Regions from separate parts of the Homo sapiens genome. Here region 2 is linked to region 1. The links come from fine-mapping of genetic effects on gene expression. A gene starts in region 1. The other region holds a variant in brackets. All regions are shown on one strand. Distances are between the middles of the regions.

Region 1 (9,184 bases):
CCATCTCTAAAAAACAAAAACAAAAGAAAGCTCAACGGAGGAACTGGCTTCATAAAAAGAATATCAGGGAAAGGTAGTAAGGGTATTTCTTACTGTTTTTGGTTTTTTGTTTTTTGTTTTTTTTTTTTTGAAATAGAGTCTTACTCTGTCACCCGGGCTGGAATTCAGTGGCGTGATCTTGGCTCCACCTCCAGGGTTCAAACAATTCTCCTGCCTCAGCCTCACGAGTAGCTGGACCACAGGCGTGCACCATCACACCAGCTAATTTTTGTATTTTTAGTAGAGACAGGGTTTCGCCATGTGAGCCAGGCTAGTCTCAAACTCCCGACCTCAGGTGATCCACCCGCCTTGGCCTCCCAAGTGCTGGGATTACAGGTGTGAGCCACCACACCTGGCCTTACTGGCTTACTTCTTTGGATTCACCTAATAAATAAAAATTAAATTTGGGGGCATGGGTGAGAGGATTCTTTCCTATGTTCTCAGCTCCTCCACCAGTAGGGGCTCAGTAAAGCCCTGTGTTGTGGAAAATGACAGGTAGGGAACCAAAAGGTGATTAAAGATCTGGCTCTTAGAGTAATTCTTTTGTTCCCTGAAGGTGATTGTTTGACTTATGTTTCTTGTCCTCATTATTATTCTTTCTAATACTCGAATTTTATTTGTTAAGGGAGAAAAAAGGCTTAAAACAAAGCCTCATTATCCTCATCTGGATAATGATGGCATTGTGAGACTATGCAATTTCTTGCTTTGTTTGGCTTAAAGAACCTCTATATGTGCGTGAAATAAATGCCAATTTAACGTTTTAGATTTCTGCTACAAGGCTGGGGCAGCTGGAATCATCCAGCAGTTCCTCCTTTATGCTGGTTTGTGGCCATTCTCGTTCCAAGAGAAGACAAACTTGCATTTCAAAATTAAACTCTGAAATTTAAAAATAAAAGCAGGAAAAAAAAAAAAACCAAAACTTTCCTAGGCCAGAAGGAATGATTTAAATTTTCGGAGAGCTCCTTGGCGTTTCAAGGGTAGTGATAAACCATTGGAATTTACTTTGATGTTTCAGCTCTAGCACAGCACCCCCTCAGCCTCCCCAGGCCTCCTCCTCCATCCCCTGTGTCTGACTGGGTAGTTACTGCTCTGGGGCCTGGAACCCTTCCAGTCTCATTCCCCTGTTTGTGTATCTGAATATCTCTATGTCTTTAGATCTTCTTCATGCTGCCTCTGTTGTCCTGTCTCCCTCTCCCAAAGTCTGTTTGTCTGTCTTGTTGCCCCCCCGGCCCCGTGCTTTTTAAATTTGGCTCCTGCTTTGTGGCACTGTCTTGAATACACAGGTTTGACTGCTGGTTGACATTTATTTATTTGTTTGTTTGTTTATTTTGAGATGGAGTCTTGCTCTGTTACCCAGGCTGGAGTGCAATGGCAAGCTCTCAGTTCACTGCAGCCTCTGCCTCCCGGGTGCAAGCGATTCTACGGCCTCAGCCTCTGGAGTAGCTGGGATTACAGGCCTGTGCCACCACACCCGGCCAAATTTTTTTTTCTTTTTTTCTTTTTTTCTTTTTTTCTTTTTTTACTGAGACGGCGTCTCGCTCTGTCACACAGGCTGGAGTGCAGTGGCCCGATCTCGGCTCACCACAACCTCCGCCACCCGGGTTCAAGTGATTCTCATGCCTCAGCCTCCCGAGTAGCTGGGACTACAGGCGGTTGCCACCACACCCAGCTAATTTTTTGTATTTTTAGTAGAGATAGGGTTTCGCCATGTTGGTCAGGCTGGTCTCAAACTCCTGACCTCAGGTGATCCACCTGCCTCGGCCCCCCAAAGTGCTGGGATTACAGGCCTGAGCCACCGCACCCGGCCTATTTTTTTTTCTTTCTTTTTTTTAGATGGAGTTTTGCTCTTGTTGCCTAGGCTGGAGTGCAATGGCGTGATCTCGGCTCACCACAACCTCTGTCTCCCGAGTTAAAGTGATTCTCCTGCCTCAGCCTCCTGAGTAGCTGGGATTACAGGCATGCGCCACCATGGCTGGCTAATTTTGTATTTTTAGTAGAGACGGGGTTTCTCCATGTTGGTCAGGCTGGTCTCGAACTCAGGTGATCCGCCCGCCTTGGCCTCCCAAAGTGCTGGGATTATAGGCATGCACCACCATGCCTGGCCTATTTTTTCTTTCTGAGACAGGGTCTCCCTCTGTCACCCAGGCTGGAGTGCATTGGAGCAATCTGGGTTCACTGCAACCTCTGCCTCCTGGGTTTAAGTGATGCTTTCACCCCAGCTTCCTGAATAGCTGGCACTACAGGCACTTGCTACCATACTCAGCTAATTTTTAAAATTTTTTTGCAGAGACAAGGACTCATTATATTGCCCAGGCTGATCTCAAACTCCTGGGCTTTGTGATCCTCCCACCTTGACCTCCTAAAGTGCTGGGATTATAGGCATGAACTACTGCACCTGGCCTCACTTTTTTTTTTTAATGGCTAACTAGACTTCACAATGTGTTCCCCACACTAGGGTTGTCACTGAGAAGTATAAGGAGCAAAAAAAGGTGAAAAGAGAAGGATGAGGAGGAAACTTAATATTATACAAAGCTCCTGGGAATACTGGAGAGCCCCTTTCCCGGGGGCACTTCGAGGAGGAACAGGTTGCCGCTGCAGAGGAAGGAACATCTGGGTTCCATGACTTGGCAACAGGCTCTCCTTGAGGGTCACTCACCGTCACAGGCTCTCTCTGCACTGGAGATCCGGCCTTCTGGAGGCTGGCAGGGAGGACGTGCTGAAGCAGGAAGGGCTCAGCTTTGCACCAGGCAGATGTCCTTTGGAATCCTGGCTCTGCTGCTTACAGCAGTGTGACTTCGCAGGCAAATCGTTTAACCTCTCTAAATCCAGATAGCCTCATTTGTAAGAAATGAGCAATGCTACCTCCTGTGTGGAGTAGCAAGGATTAAATGATGTGTTGTAAAACACCAAATAGACCCGGGCTCATAATAGGAGTTCAGACAGTGCGATTTTCCTCCCTCCTCCTTTCATGGTGGTCTTTAACTTGTATTTATTCTGAAGTTTGTTAAGGCTGTTGGGAACTCAGAACACATTTACTCATAAAAACCAGTAGCCCTGGGCTTTGTGAGGTCTGACCCCCAACCCCTGCCTAACTCACCATCCCCATTCTCTTCCCATCACCCTCATTCAGGGACTTGACTTTCAAGACATGGTGGGTTCTTCTGCTGTCTTCCAAATACCCGCTTGGGTTCCCCACCCATAAGCTTTTGCTCCTTCACCCCAGAATCTCAGACCTTTGCTTAGAACTGTCCATCAAATCAATATCCAGGTGAAATCCAAATTCTAGCTCCTCCATCTCCCAGTGTTATGCAGAACTGCTTTCTTTCTCGTCTGAATTCTTATTCTACTTTATCTGACCGAGTAGTAATATGAGCTTTATAATAAAAATCACAACATATTGCCTTTTGTGGCTGTTACTGTGGGGAGTGTCACATATTCTTATATCCCTCACACTGTTCAATAACCACTTTCTGTGGGATAAATAATAATAGCTGCATTTGTTGCATGCACACTATGCCAGGCAATGTGCTATGGCCTTTATCTACCTTTCTTCATTTAATTTCCACGACAAGGTTAAAAGAATGTATATGACCCCAGTATTCTGGGTGGAGCTAAGGGTCAGATGGAGTAAGTCACTTTCTCAAGGTCAAGTCGGCAGAAACTGAAGGAGCAAGGATTCCAACCCAGCAATGCGGGACTCCCAGCTCTGTGCTCTTTCTACTTCCCAGGAAACGGAGCCTAAGTTAGCAACAACAAACCGAAGTCGAGGACTGAGGACATATGCAACCCCCGGTTTGGGTGCAACCTTTATCAATATCCTAAACTGACAGATGACGTAGAGGCAGCCGTTTCGCTGACTAGGGAAGGTAGCCCAAGAAAGCTAAGATGCTAGAATCCAAATTTAAGGTCTACGAGACGCTGCAGAAAACATTTACAGTCACTAGAGGGCTCTCTCTCCCTTAAGCAAAAAGCGCAGCACCGCCCGCGCGCGGTAGTCTCGGAACCCCGCCGCCGGGAGGCCGCTGGCAGCTCCACGCCACCTCCCTGAAGCCCAGTCCATTTTGCCTACATCCCTGTCCGGGCAAGCCCTGGAGAATCCATAGGGCAGTGCCCCAAGCTGGAGCAGTTTTCACAGCCACATCCCGGGCTGCACTGGGTTAGGGATGCTTTGAGGTTCCTCTGGGGGCTCCCTGCTCTCTGCTTACCAAGCAGGCGGGAGTTGGGAAGGGGAGAAGGAGTGCAGACTCAGGGGTGGGGTAATCCAGAAATGCATCCCTCAAAGGCCAGCCTGGCCTGGTCCAGGCCCTAAGCTCTCTGGGGAAGGACGGCAGGGAACCCCGCCTTGGCGGGCTCTGCGGGTCCTGCGCCCGGGTAGATTTTGCTGAGATGGGGAGAGGGGACCCCCTCCACGCCCCCGGAGTAGTGAACACCATTTTGTTTGAAAGTATCCTGCAAAGAGAACCACCTCACGAGGCCATGGCTGCCAGGGGACTCCTCTCCCCACCGGATCGCCGGGGAGCCCGGGGAGGGAGGGATTCTGCAGCTGCAGCTTGGAGGTCCTTGATGCTGCATTTTAACGCGCATCGCAACGCCTTTGGAGTGACATTAAGTGCAAAGAGGCAAATGACTAATCCAAACTATTATTACAACTGCAGAAAATAACACAGATCAATGGCAAAGGCTTGAACCGGGATTAGCTAGGGAGGTGGGACAAACCGGGGATGATCCTTCCTCTCCTTTTTTAGATTTGTTTATTTTGGTAAATTATGTATGTATTTAAACATGAAGAAACAGGTGAAGCGAATGTAAATTGGGTTATAAATAATTTCCAAAGGCTTCGCTGTCCCTTGACAGAAGCCAGAAATAAGACAGGCACTGGGCCTGAGCGCTCTGGACAGGGAAGCACCCGCGTGGCGCTGGGCAAAATCTTCTCAGTGGAGAGAACGCACTCCGGGTTCGAGACCTCCCCGGGTGCAGATGCGAACTGCGGTGGCCCCAAGTGGCCGTCCACTTTGTTCATGAGAACAGTTTTCCTATAACGCCCACCCGGCCCTTTGCATCCCGCAATCCCGCGGGCGTCGGAGCGGGTCTTGGCGCGAACCAGGCGGCCTCGGCGGGGTCCTGCGGCGGAGGGCAGCGCGGCCGCAGCCCGGGAGAGGCGGCCGCGGCATTGTTTCAGCCCCTGGGGTGGGATCCAGCTGGGGGAGGGGAGGCGGGGTGTCCTCCGGAACCGCCCCCGGCCCTCCCTGGGGACCCGTGCCTCAGCGCGTCCAGGCTTTGTGGTGTCCTGAGTCGCCATGGAAACCCGAGGGAACGCGGAGCCGGGTGCTAGGGGGGTCGGTGAGTTCTCCGGCCGCGCCCTCCGTCCGCTCTCGGACCCCGGCCCTGCAGCAGGGCCTGCCGGGAGTTGTAGTCCCCAGGCGGCGGCGGCGCGCGGCGCCAAGGATGCGGGACGCCGCCTGTCCCCGCCTCCCCTTAACCTGCTAGCTGAGGTGGGGAGCGGCGGGAGGAGCCGGCCGCGCGGTGATTGGCGGAGGCCGCTCCCAGCCCCCGACACGCGCCCCTCCCCCGCTCCCCACTCTGGACTCCCGCGCTGGGCGCGCTGAGGCGGCCCCCGAGCGAGCGCGCGTGCAGCCGCCGCCGCCCCGAGCACCCGCAGCTCCGGCGCCGCGGCGAGACGGAGACGGACCGAGCCACGGGCCCCCGCGGCCGCAGCATCTCGGAGGAGTGGGTGATGGCAGGGGGGTCGGTGGGCTTACCCCTCCCGGGCTAGGACATCCTCCTCTCCCCCTTCTGTTTCTGCGTGAGGCGCACAAAAGGGCGGGGAGCCGGGTGAGCCTGGGGCCCGGCCGCAGGGGACGCGGCGGGAGGTGTGGTTTGGGGTTGGGAGGTGGCCATCGGGGCTAAGCCGGGGCGCTCTTGGGGTCCTCTTTGTACGCCCGCGAAGCGCCGTGCCGGGCCTTGCTCATAGTAAGCGTTTAATGCGTGCTCGCGGGGTTGCAAAGCCCTGGGGTGAGGAGGCGGCTCGGCCGAGGGGTTTCGCGCCTAGCACGCAGTGGGCCGCTTTCCTAGCCGGGCGCGGTGCAGTGGACCGCTGGAGGGCTGGGCGGGGGCGCCTCTGGCCGGGGGCCAGTCCTGCCGGTCCCAGGATCTGCGCTGTCCCCGGTCCCACACACCACCCAGATACACACCCTCCGTCCTTCTCGCCTCCGAGCTGGGATCTGCCCAGCCTGGACCCGACCCGGCGGTCTGTTCCACCGCCCGGCTAACGGAGCGGACGCCTGCAGAGGACTCGCCCGCCGCCTCCGAGCCTCCCGCCTGAGCCACAAAGGCCTCCTGCGGCTGCCCAGCCCGGAGCGGGCGCCGAGCCGGGTCCCTCGGCTGGAGCCCAGCGCGGGAGCCCGCCTTGCAGCATCGATCTCAGCGGGCACCGACGTCGACGCCCCGGGCCTGGGGACGGGGCTGTAGTCTGAGCTGGAGAGAAGCCGGGAGAGGGCGAGGGGAGGCCTCGGTTGAGAAAAGATGGGGATGGGGAAGGCTGGGGAGCTGGGTTAGGACAGGTAGTGGGTCTCGGGGAGCAGGGAGTGGGAACTAGGGTTTGAGGAGGAAAGAGAAGGGGCGGGGGCGGGTCCGAAGAACGAGGGAAGGAGCTCGGTGCAGGTGGCGCCCGGCGAGGCTGGTTCTGCTGAAGAATGGGGAGGGGAGGAGGGATGCAGGCGGGTGGAGGCCGCCTGGGTTTGAGGAGGGAGGACGGGAGCGAGGAGAAGACCCGCGCTGTGCGGGGGAGGGGGGCCTCCTGGGAAGGGGAGCCTCCCGAGGAGGGAGGGGCAAGCAGCTGAGAGGCGGTCTCGGGCCCGAGGATCCTCAGCTCCAGGCGCGGGGCCCCGCGGCCCAGGTGGCCGGCTGGGCGTGGCCCTCGGACCGGGGTTAGGGACCCAGGATGGCAGATCCGGGACCGGGCTGGGCTGGCTTGGTGAGGAGCTTTGTCTCCAGGCTTGAAACCAGCCGGTAGCGACTCGCTTAGGGTTTTGTGATCTTCCGCGGCGCCCACGGCACGCCCTTTTCTCGAGGAGCTGAAAGGCTTTGCCCAGCAGCAGGTGCTGCCAGGGAGGCGGATCTCCCTTCGGGGAGACCCGGAGAACAATAGCCGACCCTGGTGTCCATCCGACGACAAACCAGGGCCACCCAGGACGCGAGGGTGCAGTTTTCTGGTGCTGGGAATACTCCCTGCGGAACCTCCGGGCACGTGCTGGCTTTGGGGTTTTATGGGGGCCTGGCCACGCCGGGAATCCCGTGTGGGAGGCGCTCCCCCGGCCTGGGGGCCTGCAGACAGCCACCCCCCCACTCCGGCTCGGGTGCCTTCTGGTGCAGCGCCGCCGCCCGCCCCGCGCTGTCCACCCGCTGCCGAGACGCGGCGTGGTTAGCGGCGCGGAGCTGCCGGGCGGCGACGCAGGTGCCAAAGACTGGAGGTCGCCTCGGTGCAGCGCGGGTTCCCCCGAGCAGCGGCTTTGTCTGCCGAGGCGGCCGTAGTCTAGGGGCTGCAGCTGTGCTTTCTCAGGGGGAGCCGTAAGGGCTGGTGCGGATTGTGGTCAAATTGCGGAGAAGCGGGTGGAAATGATCCCGCAAGGGTGAGGCTCTAGGTTTGGGAGCCGCTGCTAGGGGTCCAGTGCTTTTCTTTGCCAGTGACCACACCCAAGCCAGTGCGTCTCTTGCAGACTTCGCCCATATTGTCTGCTGACCTAAGACTGGGGTAGCTCTGTGATAGGCGCTGCTTGCCCGTGGGAAAGCAGATGAACCGAATGGAAGCTTAAAACAGGCTTTCAGCAGGGCTTTCCACGCACTCAGCCTCTCGCCCGCCGTCTAAACACCTTGCAAGTCACCGCTGCAGCGCCTTGACATGTGAAGTGACACCCAAAGCCAGAATTCTGTGTTGCACTGTTGCTTTGATAACTGGTTAGATGACAAGTTAAAGGTGAATCTTTAGCATAAAGTTATCATTTTAAATTGCCATTCATTAAAAAAAAAGGCAGGAATGTTTTTGTTCCCAGACTGGGCGATACTTGGCATTGTAGAACTCATTGATGCCACTTACATTTGCCACTAAGTTAACTGAGAACCTGTTGGTTCTCTTAACCCAGCCTTGAAATCTCAGGATTTGCTTTCTTAACAAGATTAGTGTGTAAGGTGAAGGACTGTGCTGTGGCTGTTGGCTTTTGCCCAGGACAGATGATAGCTGTCAAAGTGAAGGCCTCTTGTCTGAGTGTCCTTTCTGGCCATAGGGAGTCAGCAGTAGGCTATGTCTTGCTGGTTTTAAAGGATGGTGTTTTGAGGAGGTGCCTCACAGAATTTACAAAACTGATCTGGAAGGACTAGCTGGAACATTGCTCATTGGTTGTTTTTAACTATATTTTAACTGAATTATATATATGTATATATTAATATGTATATACACACATATATATATACACATACTATATTTTACTAAATTATATATGCATGTGTGTATTTATGCATACACACAAACATGGATTCAGAGTACATAAATACTAGGAATCTCAATATTAGAAACCTAGAAATCTGACAGTGAAGGTTTTTTCTTGTAAGAGAGCTCCAATGGGAAACATGTTTTCATATTATTACCCAAAGGGAACAATTTCAGGAAGGAGTGTTTTGTTGGCTTCTTTTTTGTAATAATTTTATGGATTTTTAAAAGGATGTAATCTTCTTAAAGCACTCTGTGAACATCCATTGCAGTCTGTTCCTCATGGCAGGGAATCCATAGACAAGGAATGCCGGTATGACCAGCCTGACGTGAAGGCCTGGCTGTTGTCAGCGTAACCTCTCTAGGTGCAAACATTAGCAGGGTTGTTGCATTATTCTTAATGCTTCTATCTCTGGAAAGAGTTCCACAGCAAGGCAAGTTTACACAGTTGGCCAAAATCAGGTCTCAGGACTTGGCGTAAACTTCATTTGTGGCACTTCCACGTCTCTTCTCCTGCCATAGCTATCTGAGAATTTCCCCTTAATAGCTTCTCTGACCCAGGATTCTGTATGATCCTGCATTAGCTCCACGGGACTATAAGCCAAAGGACAGCATGACTATAGGCAGGTCTCTGGGGTAAAAGTAAATTGTGGCCAGGCACAG
Region 2 (9,184 bases), 91 kb after region 1:
GCAGTTCCTGCAACCTTGCCCTGACTGCCAGCCCTGCATTCTCCGCTTAAGGACTGTCACCTTGAGGGTGGGGTTGAGTGACGCAGGGGGAGGCGCTGGTGCCAGGGCTGACTTTGCCAGGGTTATTCTGATGCTTGTGAAGTTTATGGGTCAACCCTCCCTACTTCCCACTGTTTCTTGTGTTTAGACTCACTGTCCAATCTACCTGGTCAACGTGTCCAGTATCTCGGCTGGTGACGTTATCGCAGCTGCTAAGATGCAAGGTGAGTCCATAGACTTGGCTGGACAGAGCAGGTCAAGTGGAGGGACTGGAGATGGATGGGGCCCATTAGCCGTGCTCACTCCTGGCCCCGGCTCCTGAAACCAGGACCTGAGCCAGCCCTTCCCTTTCATCTGCCACCGTCTTCCTCAGAGCTGCCCTGTGCTATGCTGGCTTTAGTCTGCTAGAACATGAGCTTTTTCTTCTGCAAATTTGTATGCATAACAGCTTTACGGAAGTGTCTGTCACTTCTCCTGGGTCTGGTAACATTTTCCAAGTTTTAAACCCACTCATTAATTAGTGTCTTTTTGGCCTCATAGATTTTACTAGCAGTTGCCTTGGCAACTAACATAAAATGCTGGACCAGTTTCAGTGGGCATTTCAGGGGCTGTTTGGGAAGTCCCTAAAGAAAGAACAGTGTGTGGGCCCAGCTTCCTTTTAGCCTCCTGGAACCCTGTGTATGAGTCCGAGGGGCACTTGTATGGCTTCTGTTGCGGATCGCCTGGCAGTACCTAAAGGCTTGCAGATGCTTGGAGTCCAGCCCCGCCCCAGGTGCTGGTGAGGGCCTGGCAGCAGGAGAAACAAAGTCACAGTCACAAGCCTGGGGAGACAGATCAGAAGCAAGGGCATCTCAGCCTTCAACTATAATCGATCAGAAGCAAGGGCATCCTGGCCTTCAACTCTATCGCCCTCTAGATCCCGCCACCTGCCTCTCCCCTCACTGAAGCCCCTTGGAGGGTCTCGCCTAGACTGTCGTCCCAGCCTGGTGACTGCTCCCACCTCCTGTCTCCCTGTCCTCCAGCCCTGCTACGGCCCTCCCTGTCCTACCACAACCGTTCTCTTGAAGCTGCTCACAGCAACTGCCTGTCCAGAAAACAGTCTAGACTGCTCTTTAGCGTGGCATTCGTGGCCCTGCATGCCTGTTCACCCACCGTCAAGCTCCATCTGCCAACAGCACCCTGCACACACCAGTGCTCTGGTCATCTGGCCAAACCAGACTCCTCAAAGTGCCGCTTGGTCCTGCTGGGCCTCGGTGCCCATGTCCCTCTGTCCTCCTTGCCTAAGTCAGCAGAATAGGGAGGCTCTCTGGGCTTGAACCCAGCTGTGCTCTTAAAAGCCCTGTGAGCTTGGGCAGGTCCCTTCCTGTCTCTGACCTCAGCTCCTTCACCTGTAAAATGAGAGGCACACACCAGCGATCGCTCAGGTTCGGTGGCTTCCTGGTTATGGTTCTGACCTTTCTTCTTCCAGGGAAGGTTGTGCTGGCGGAGACCACCACTGCACATGCCACGCTGACAGGCTTACACTACTACCACCAGGACTGGTCCCACGCGGCTGCCTATGTCACGGTGCCTCCCCTGAGACTGGACACCAACACCTCAACCTACCTCATGAGCCTGCTGGCCAAGTAAGGCGTTTCAGCAGCACATTGCAGGGATGTGTACATCTTTAGGAAGACGTCATAGAGGGCCCAGGAAACAAATCTGAGCTAGGTTTGATTTCATTGTGCCCATAGGATCATTGTGCTTTTCTTACCTTCTCTGAGCCCATCAGATAATTGCCATCCTATTGGGATTTTATGACCGCTTGATATGGAGTGAGATCTTCTGAAGTATAAGAGTGAAGAGCACATATAGAACTGTGAACCGTGGTTATTCGGAATTTCAAAGGACATTGATCTCTTACTCTAAAGCCCAGTGGGGAGCTGCAGAACGTGGCCTGTGACTTATCCTAGAATGTAGGGGTCCTTTCTGTTTCTTTTGTTCACCTCTCCCTCTTCTTGTTGGCTCCCGTGTGCCCCTTGTCTGTACATCCCTCCTTCTGTGGGTTTCTCCTCCTTTCCTTCCCCTTTCCCTTTTTCTTCTGCACTTTCTCCCCCTTTCCTTCCCACACCCTTCCTCCAGATCTCCTTTCTCCAGCTCTTCTATTTCTGACACTGCTTTTTCCCCATGCAATCCCAATCTAAAGGAAATGGTTTGATGAACGGTCTGAATTCAGTGGGACCCAATTATGGAAGGGTTTCTGTTTTATCCCAATAACTGCTTGCAGCTTCTTTCTCTCTCCTATTAACATTTTTGGGGCCAGGTGCAGTGGTTCACACCTGTAATCCCAGCCCTTTGGGAGGCCGAGGTGGGTGGATCACTTGAGATCAGGAGTTCAAGACCAGCCTGGCCAACGTGGTAAAACCCTGTCTCTACTGAAAATACAAAAAATTAGCCGGGCATGGTGGTGTGTGCCTGTAATCCCAGCTACTTGGGAGGCTGAGGCAGGAGAATCACTTGAACCCAGGAGGCAGAGGTTGCAGTGAGCTAGGATCATGCCACTGCACTCCAGCCTGTCCGGCGACAGAGCAAGACTCCATCTCAAAAAAAAAAAAAAAAAAATTGGGGGAGAAGACGATGCTTTCTCTTCACTTTTGGGTATTAAAGTTCCATCCAGTTTAAGACTTCATCTCCTTCCCTCCTGATCCCCAGCTCAGCTTGGGTTGGGGTAGGAGGACTAGGACAAAAGGCGAGGGGATTCTTCTCCATACCCAAGCATGCATCCCTCCCAGCTTGCAGCACTGGCAATGCCTCTGTGAACAAGGACCTGCACAAGGCAACTTATGCCTGGCCACCTTCTACAGTATCTGAGGCCCAGAGGAAGCCCACACAGCCTTTCTGCTCCCTGTGGCTCAGAGGCAGGTCCATAGCCCACAGTCCAGGCAAGGTGCCCACTGCTCTCAGCTCTGTTCTCCACAAGTGAACCTCTTGAAGTATGCCCTCCTTGTCTTCAGGGTGGACTGGTGAGGAGAGGGTATGGAAGCCCCACTCAACTCAGGAAAGAGGAGGGGAGGGAATGCCAGGACTCTCCATCCTGCCAACCCCTCAGTCTCCCTCCGAGGGTCCCGCTTTCTAGACCTGGGGGATGGGGATTCGCCTCTTCTAAGATGGTGCAGGAGCAGTGGAGGGAAGCGACTGGCCCCACCGAAGATGGCTGTCTTAGATAATAAGGTGCTTGTCTCATCCATGTCCTTAGCTTTCAGTTCTGGTTGCCAACCACTGGAAAACTCCCACTCCCATCCCGTTATGTTCACAACCTAAACAGAGTTGGGGGGTGCAGGGCTTAGCCAATGCGAGTGGAGTGCCATCGATAGGGGCGTGGGCGAAGGTGGCCTCTGTGGAGGGCAGTACGCACCACGGCATGGGGATGGTCATTGTATTCTGTCCCATAGCCTTGGTGGGTGCCAGGCGGCAGCAGCTCTTACAATATTTACATATTTACATTATGTAAATAAATATGGAGGGTAAAGATTAAGAGAGAAATGCTAGATCAGCTCTTACTCTTAAAAAATGCTTGTTTTGGCTGGGCATGGTGGCTCGCACCTGTAATCCCAGCACTTTGGGAGGCGGAGTCAGGCAGATTACCTGAGGTCAGGAGTTCAGCCTGGCCAACATGGTAAAATCCTGTCTCTACTAAAAATACAAAAATTAGCTGGGCATGGTGGCTCGTGCCTGTAATCCCAGCTACTCCAGAGGCTGAGGCAGGAGAATCGCTTGAACCCAGGAGGCGGAGGTTGCAGTGAGCTGAGATCGCACAACTGCACTCCAGCGTGGGCAACAAGAGCAAGACTTCATTTAAAAAAAAAAAAAAAAGCTTGTTTTGAGAAGAATCAACCTCCTTTTCATCATCAGCAATACAATAAAAGAAACAATTACCAAGACTCCACTATAATAATGTGGGCTTGGTTCCAAGGTCAAGAATCTTTTGAAACACCCCTGCTTGCTACAAGCAAATTTACTGAAAGAACAAAAAAGATAATAAGTGCTTCAACCCACCCAAATTACAGCGCCCAAACCCACACAAATTCAAATAGACTGGAATAAGTATCATTGAATAATTTAAGTTTTTATATCTAGCTTACTTTGTCAAATGTATTTTAATTATTTAAATTAATTCTATTTATTTAAGTAGAAATGTACTTTTTGTGTTATGATAATAGTCTGAATCCCTTTTTAATCCCTTTTTAATCAGTGCATATTGTAAATGGGTGCTACTTTATAGGATTTGGAGCATAATTTTAATATTTTAATATTTATAGAAATTTATGATGACTATAATTTTGCTTTTGTAACACATTATTGGTTATAATTTATATGATGCAAGATACTTGATAGAAAATTCAGACACCAATTATTATTCCTATAAGAAAATATGAGCTGTTTCCTAATTATCTACTTTAGGGTATGATTTGTGATTTGTTAGGCCCTGCAGGAATAAAAAAGTACAATCTATAGATATAACTATTTATGCTTTATTCTGGCTTGTTTTTTTTTTTCAGACAGGGTCTGGCTCTGTCACTCAGGCTGGAATGCAGTGGTACAACCTCCTGAGTAGCTGGGGCTACACGTGTGCACCACCATGCCTGGCTAGTT[T/TTTTG]TTTGTTTGTTTGTTTGTTTGTTTGTTTGTTTGTTTGTTGAGCCAGGGTCTCACTCTGTCTCCCAGGCTGGAGTGCAGCCTCCCAAAGTGCTGGGGTTACAGGCGTGAGCCACCCTGCACCACCGTGCCCAGCCTAATTTTTGTATTTTTTGTATTTTTTCATCATGTTGCCCATGCTGGCCTCAAACTCCTGACCTCAACTGATCCACCCGCCTCGGCCTCCCAAAATGCTGGGATTACAGATGTGAGCCACTGCACCTGGCCTAAAATCTGGTTTCTTAAAGGGACAAGAAATTTTTTCATTTGATCATATAAAATGTTACAGTGCTTAGCAAAGCCAGTCATGTTTTAAACTTTAAATGGTTTGGATGGGGGCTTCCTACCTCCCAGATTCAGGGCAGCACTGAGAGAGCTCAGAGGGCCTCCTAGAATGTAACTACCGTCATTCACAGCTGCTTAGTGGGTACCTTTGTGTAGGAGCCTTTTCAGAAAGCTGGGTGCTCAGGAAGACTTGCTGGTTAAAGAGCAGGAGTTGAGCCTGTTGCTCTCAGGGTCCCTGACCTGCCCTTCATGACTGCAGTGGGCATCTTCTGCCCTGAGCCCTGCTCAGGTATCCAGAGGGCCCCTCAGGAGAAAGGAAACCCTAAAGATTCCATTCATCTATCAGGGCTTCTGCAGGTCCAGAGAGTGTGGGGAGCCTTGGGGCTCTGCGGGAGAATCTCTTGCAAAGAGTCTCTGCAAGGGCCAGAGCAGCCTCTTTGGCCCAGAGAAGGCCCAGCCTACCGCACAGGAAGAGCGATGCATCTTCACCACGGGTTTGGCCAAAGACATTAGTCACTGGGCAGGAGCTGAGACTGATAAGCCCTGCCAGGTCCCCCGTGGAGACAGCCCTATGGAGCTAACTGGCCATCATCTGAGAGCCTTAAGAATATGCTTCCTCACCAGGTCAGATAATGCTTTCTGCCCCCACAGTCTCCTGGAGTGGGCATCTTAGATGGCCCACAGGCACTCACAAGGCTCTGGGGCCTCTTACAGAGTACAATGGGACCCCTGCCCCTGACCTTCAGGGCACCCACAGTGTGGTCCCAGCAGTCATCCCCTCCCCCACCTGACTCCCCTGCTCCAGCCAGGCCTTTCTCTGGCCCCGCAAAGCCATTTCCTCTTGAGGCCCTGACCTGGTTTGCGTGGGCATTCTCTCTCCTCCGCCCCTCACTGCCTCTGAGCCCTTGGCCTGCAGAGATCTCTGAATCCAGGCCACCTGCCTGCCTCCCTCATTGGGCAGAGGATCTGCTGCCATGAGCCCTCTCTCCCTGTTCTTCCCTACGTCTTCTTTGGCCCAGGAGCCCCTCGAGGGCCTGCCTGTGCCTTAGCCACCCACAGCCTTGGATGGAGGATGGCTTTTTTTTCATCTTTTCAGACAGAGTCTCCCTCTGTTCCCCAGGCTGGAGTGCATTGGGGCTATCTTGGCTCACTGCAGCCTCCGCCTCCTGGATTCAAGCAATTCTCTCACCTCGGCCTCCAGAGTAGCTGGGATTACAGGCGCCCACCACTACGCTCAGATAATTTTTTTCTATTTTTAGTAGAGACAGGGTTTCACCATGTTGCCAAGGCTGATCTCGAACTCCTGGCCTCCAGTGATGCACCTGCCTCGGCCTCCCAAAGTGCTGGGATTACAGGCATGAGCACCTGGCCCGAGGACAGCCTTAATATATGTGTGAGGACCGTAGTCATGAACGGCATTGGGGAAGAACTGAGTGGCTTGCATACCACTCTCGGTCTATTAAGTCAGGCTTCTAGCTCATCCCTCCTTCCCCTTCTGGGCCATTAGAATCCCCACATCCAAGGAAGGCTATGAGTCCAAGTTATTCAACAAAGCTTAACACTGAACTTGTGAATGCTTGTTGCCAGCAGGTTGGGGTTGGAGAGCTGATGAGAGGGAATTGGTATACAATTCCATGAGAGTAGAACTACCTCCACCATCTCACTTCAGCTAGACTCTAAGTTCGGCTTTTCTCTGCTATCTTCACTCTTAAACATTGCTATCCCAAGGCTCTCACTGAAGTCTCCTGTGACACAGACAGACTGTGCCACACTCATTCTGTAGATGAGTAAACTGAGGTTCACATAGATGCAGTAACTCACGACAGACCACATGGCCTAAGCGGCAGAGCTGAAATTGGAGTCGGCTTTGCCTGCTTCCCACACGGAGGATTTTCCCTATATCTATCCTCACCCTCTAAGTTCCTCACCTCCCCTCCCCTTACTGGTCACCTCCTTTTCTCTACCCAGTGACACTCTGAACATCGTGGCATCAGATCACCGGCCTTTCACCACAAAGCAGAAAGCTATGGGCAAGGAAGACTTCACCAAGATCCCACATGGAGTGAGTGGCGTGCAGGACCGCATGAGCGTCATCTGGGAGAGAGGAGTGGTATGTTTCCTAGAGCCCCGCCCCGATCTGATCCCTGCTCTAATCCCCGTTTCATCCCCGTTCTAATCCCAATAAGAGTATTCACTCCTCAGATCCTGTCAAAGAATGTTCTTAGAAGGGCTGGTTCAATCCCAGCTGTTTGTTTCACTCAAAAACAAAACACAAAAGGTCTTTCCCCCAATTAGAAAGGTAGTAAGACCTATTATGGAAATTTGGAAAATACAGAAAAGTATAAGAAAAAAAGAAACCTTAATTCCACGCCTAGAAATTAAACTACTATTAACATTTTAATATATTTCTTTCATTTAGTTCTGTGCATGTACTGTACTTTTTTTTTTTTTTTTCCTTTTTTACTATGTTGTCCAGACAGGTCTTGAACTCATGGGCTCAAGCTATCCTTCCACCTCTGCCTCCTTAAGTGCTGCGATTATAGGTGTGAGCCACCACACCCAGCTATACATTATTTTAATAACTGGCTTCATATTTTTTTCTTTTACCAACTGCTATACTAACCAGGATTTTTTTTCTTCATATAACACTATACCCTGAGTGTCTCCCTATATCAGTAAAAATTCTTTAAAAACATCTTTTTTCAGAGCTGAATGATATTTTCTCCAATGAAAGTACCATACTTTATTTAATCCTTCCCTGATGTTTGGGACTTTCGGCTGTTTCTAATTTTTGCACTTACAAATAATGCTGAGGAGAACCTCTTTGTTCAGGAGTGTGTGTCAGCATTTCTGATTATTATTATTATTATTATTATTTATTTTTTTTTGTGTGTGATAGAATCTCCCTCTGTTGCCCGGGCTGGAGTACAATGGCGCTGTCTCGGCTCACTGCAACCTCCGCCTCCCGGGTTCAAGCGGTTCTCCTGCCTCAGCCTCCCGAGTAGCTGGGACTACAGGCGTGCGCCACTATGCCCAGCTAATTTTTGTATTTTTTATAGAGGCGGGTTTTCACCATGTTGGTTGGTCAGATGGTCTCGATCTCTTGACCTCGTGATCCGCCCGTCTTGGCCTCCCAAAGTGCTGGGATTACAGGCATGAGCCACTGCACCCGGCCTCTGATTATTATTTCTGATTATTTCCTTAAGACAGCATCCTAGAAGTGGATTTTTAGGCCAAGGGATGTGAACATTTTTAAGGCTCTTGATTTGATATATTTTGTCTAATTGCTTTCAGAAAAGATAAGAACTGGGACTTCATTTGAATACCACCTGTTCCGCACATGAAGAATAAGTATTTTTGGTCTTGATCTATCTCAGATTAGATCTAAAATAGTATGAGCCCCAAAGAGATTTGAAGTTCTCAAGACTAAGCTCATGGAAGGCCAAGGAGATGGCTCAGGAAATCCCCTTGAAGAGAGTCCATAGTACTCTCATGGGTGGGGCAATAAGATGTTTTTCTAGAGCATATATAACCCTTTGAAAATATCACCCTTAGTAGATGAAGGGAGGTTCCTGACTCATCCGTGTGGGCACATGAGCAGAGCTGGTTTTACAAACAGGAGGCAGATTTGCCCCCGGGCAGGAAGCCTGAATGGAACCACGGCCACTCACCATAGTTGCTGGGTGAAGGGAGAAAGGAATAAGTGAGCAACTGGGACCCAGCCAAGCAGGCTGGCTCATCTGAGATGGTGCTCATGGCCTTGTCCCTTTGTGACCACTGTCCTGACCACCTAAGCCCTAAGTCCATGGGCCAGCATCAAAGGTGACCAAGGGTTTGAGACCCACCCCCAGAGCCTGGTTGACTTGACACTTTCTGCAACATTTCAGGTTGGAGGAAAGATGGATGAGAACCGTTTTGTGGCCGTTACCAGTTCCAACGCAGCTAAGCTTCTGAACCTGTATCCCCGCAAGGGCCGCATTATTCCCGGAGCCGATGCTGATGTGGTGGTGTGGGACCCAGAAGCCACAAAGTAAAGTTTGTTGCTCGTCCCCAGGGCTAGAGGGGCTTGGGATTTTGAAGAAGACTTGCATTACAGATCTCCAAAAGCATATAATTTTGCACTATTTCTAGCACAAAATATGGCCCTGGCCTACCGTTGGCCATCTTCTCCCTCCATCTTCACACAGTCTTT

What was found. PIP is the estimated chance that this variant, and not a neighbour inherited with it, causes the effect.
Region 2: its variant is fine-mapped to the expression of DPYSL5 in prefrontal cortex (ROSMAP, PIP 0.95).

The regions. Positions count from the first base shown.
Region 1 is chr2:26,842,489-26,851,672 of GRCh38, forward strand. It overlaps DPYSL5 (dihydropyrimidinase like 5), which reads left to right and starts at 5,644. Exons shown (of 13, transcript NM_020134.4): 1 at 5,644-5,766.
Region 2 is chr2:26,933,071-26,942,254 of GRCh38, forward strand. DPYSL5 (dihydropyrimidinase like 5) reads left to right here. Exons shown (of 13, transcript NM_020134.4): 7 at 188-263; 8 at 1,508-1,664; 9 at 6,961-7,102; 10 at 8,880-9,022. Among named protein-coding and RNA genes, the nearest start is that of MAPRE3, 33 kb to the right of the region's middle. RefSeq lists an enhancer at 1,283-1,782. The variant T/TTTTG (reference allele first, on the strand shown) is at 4,672.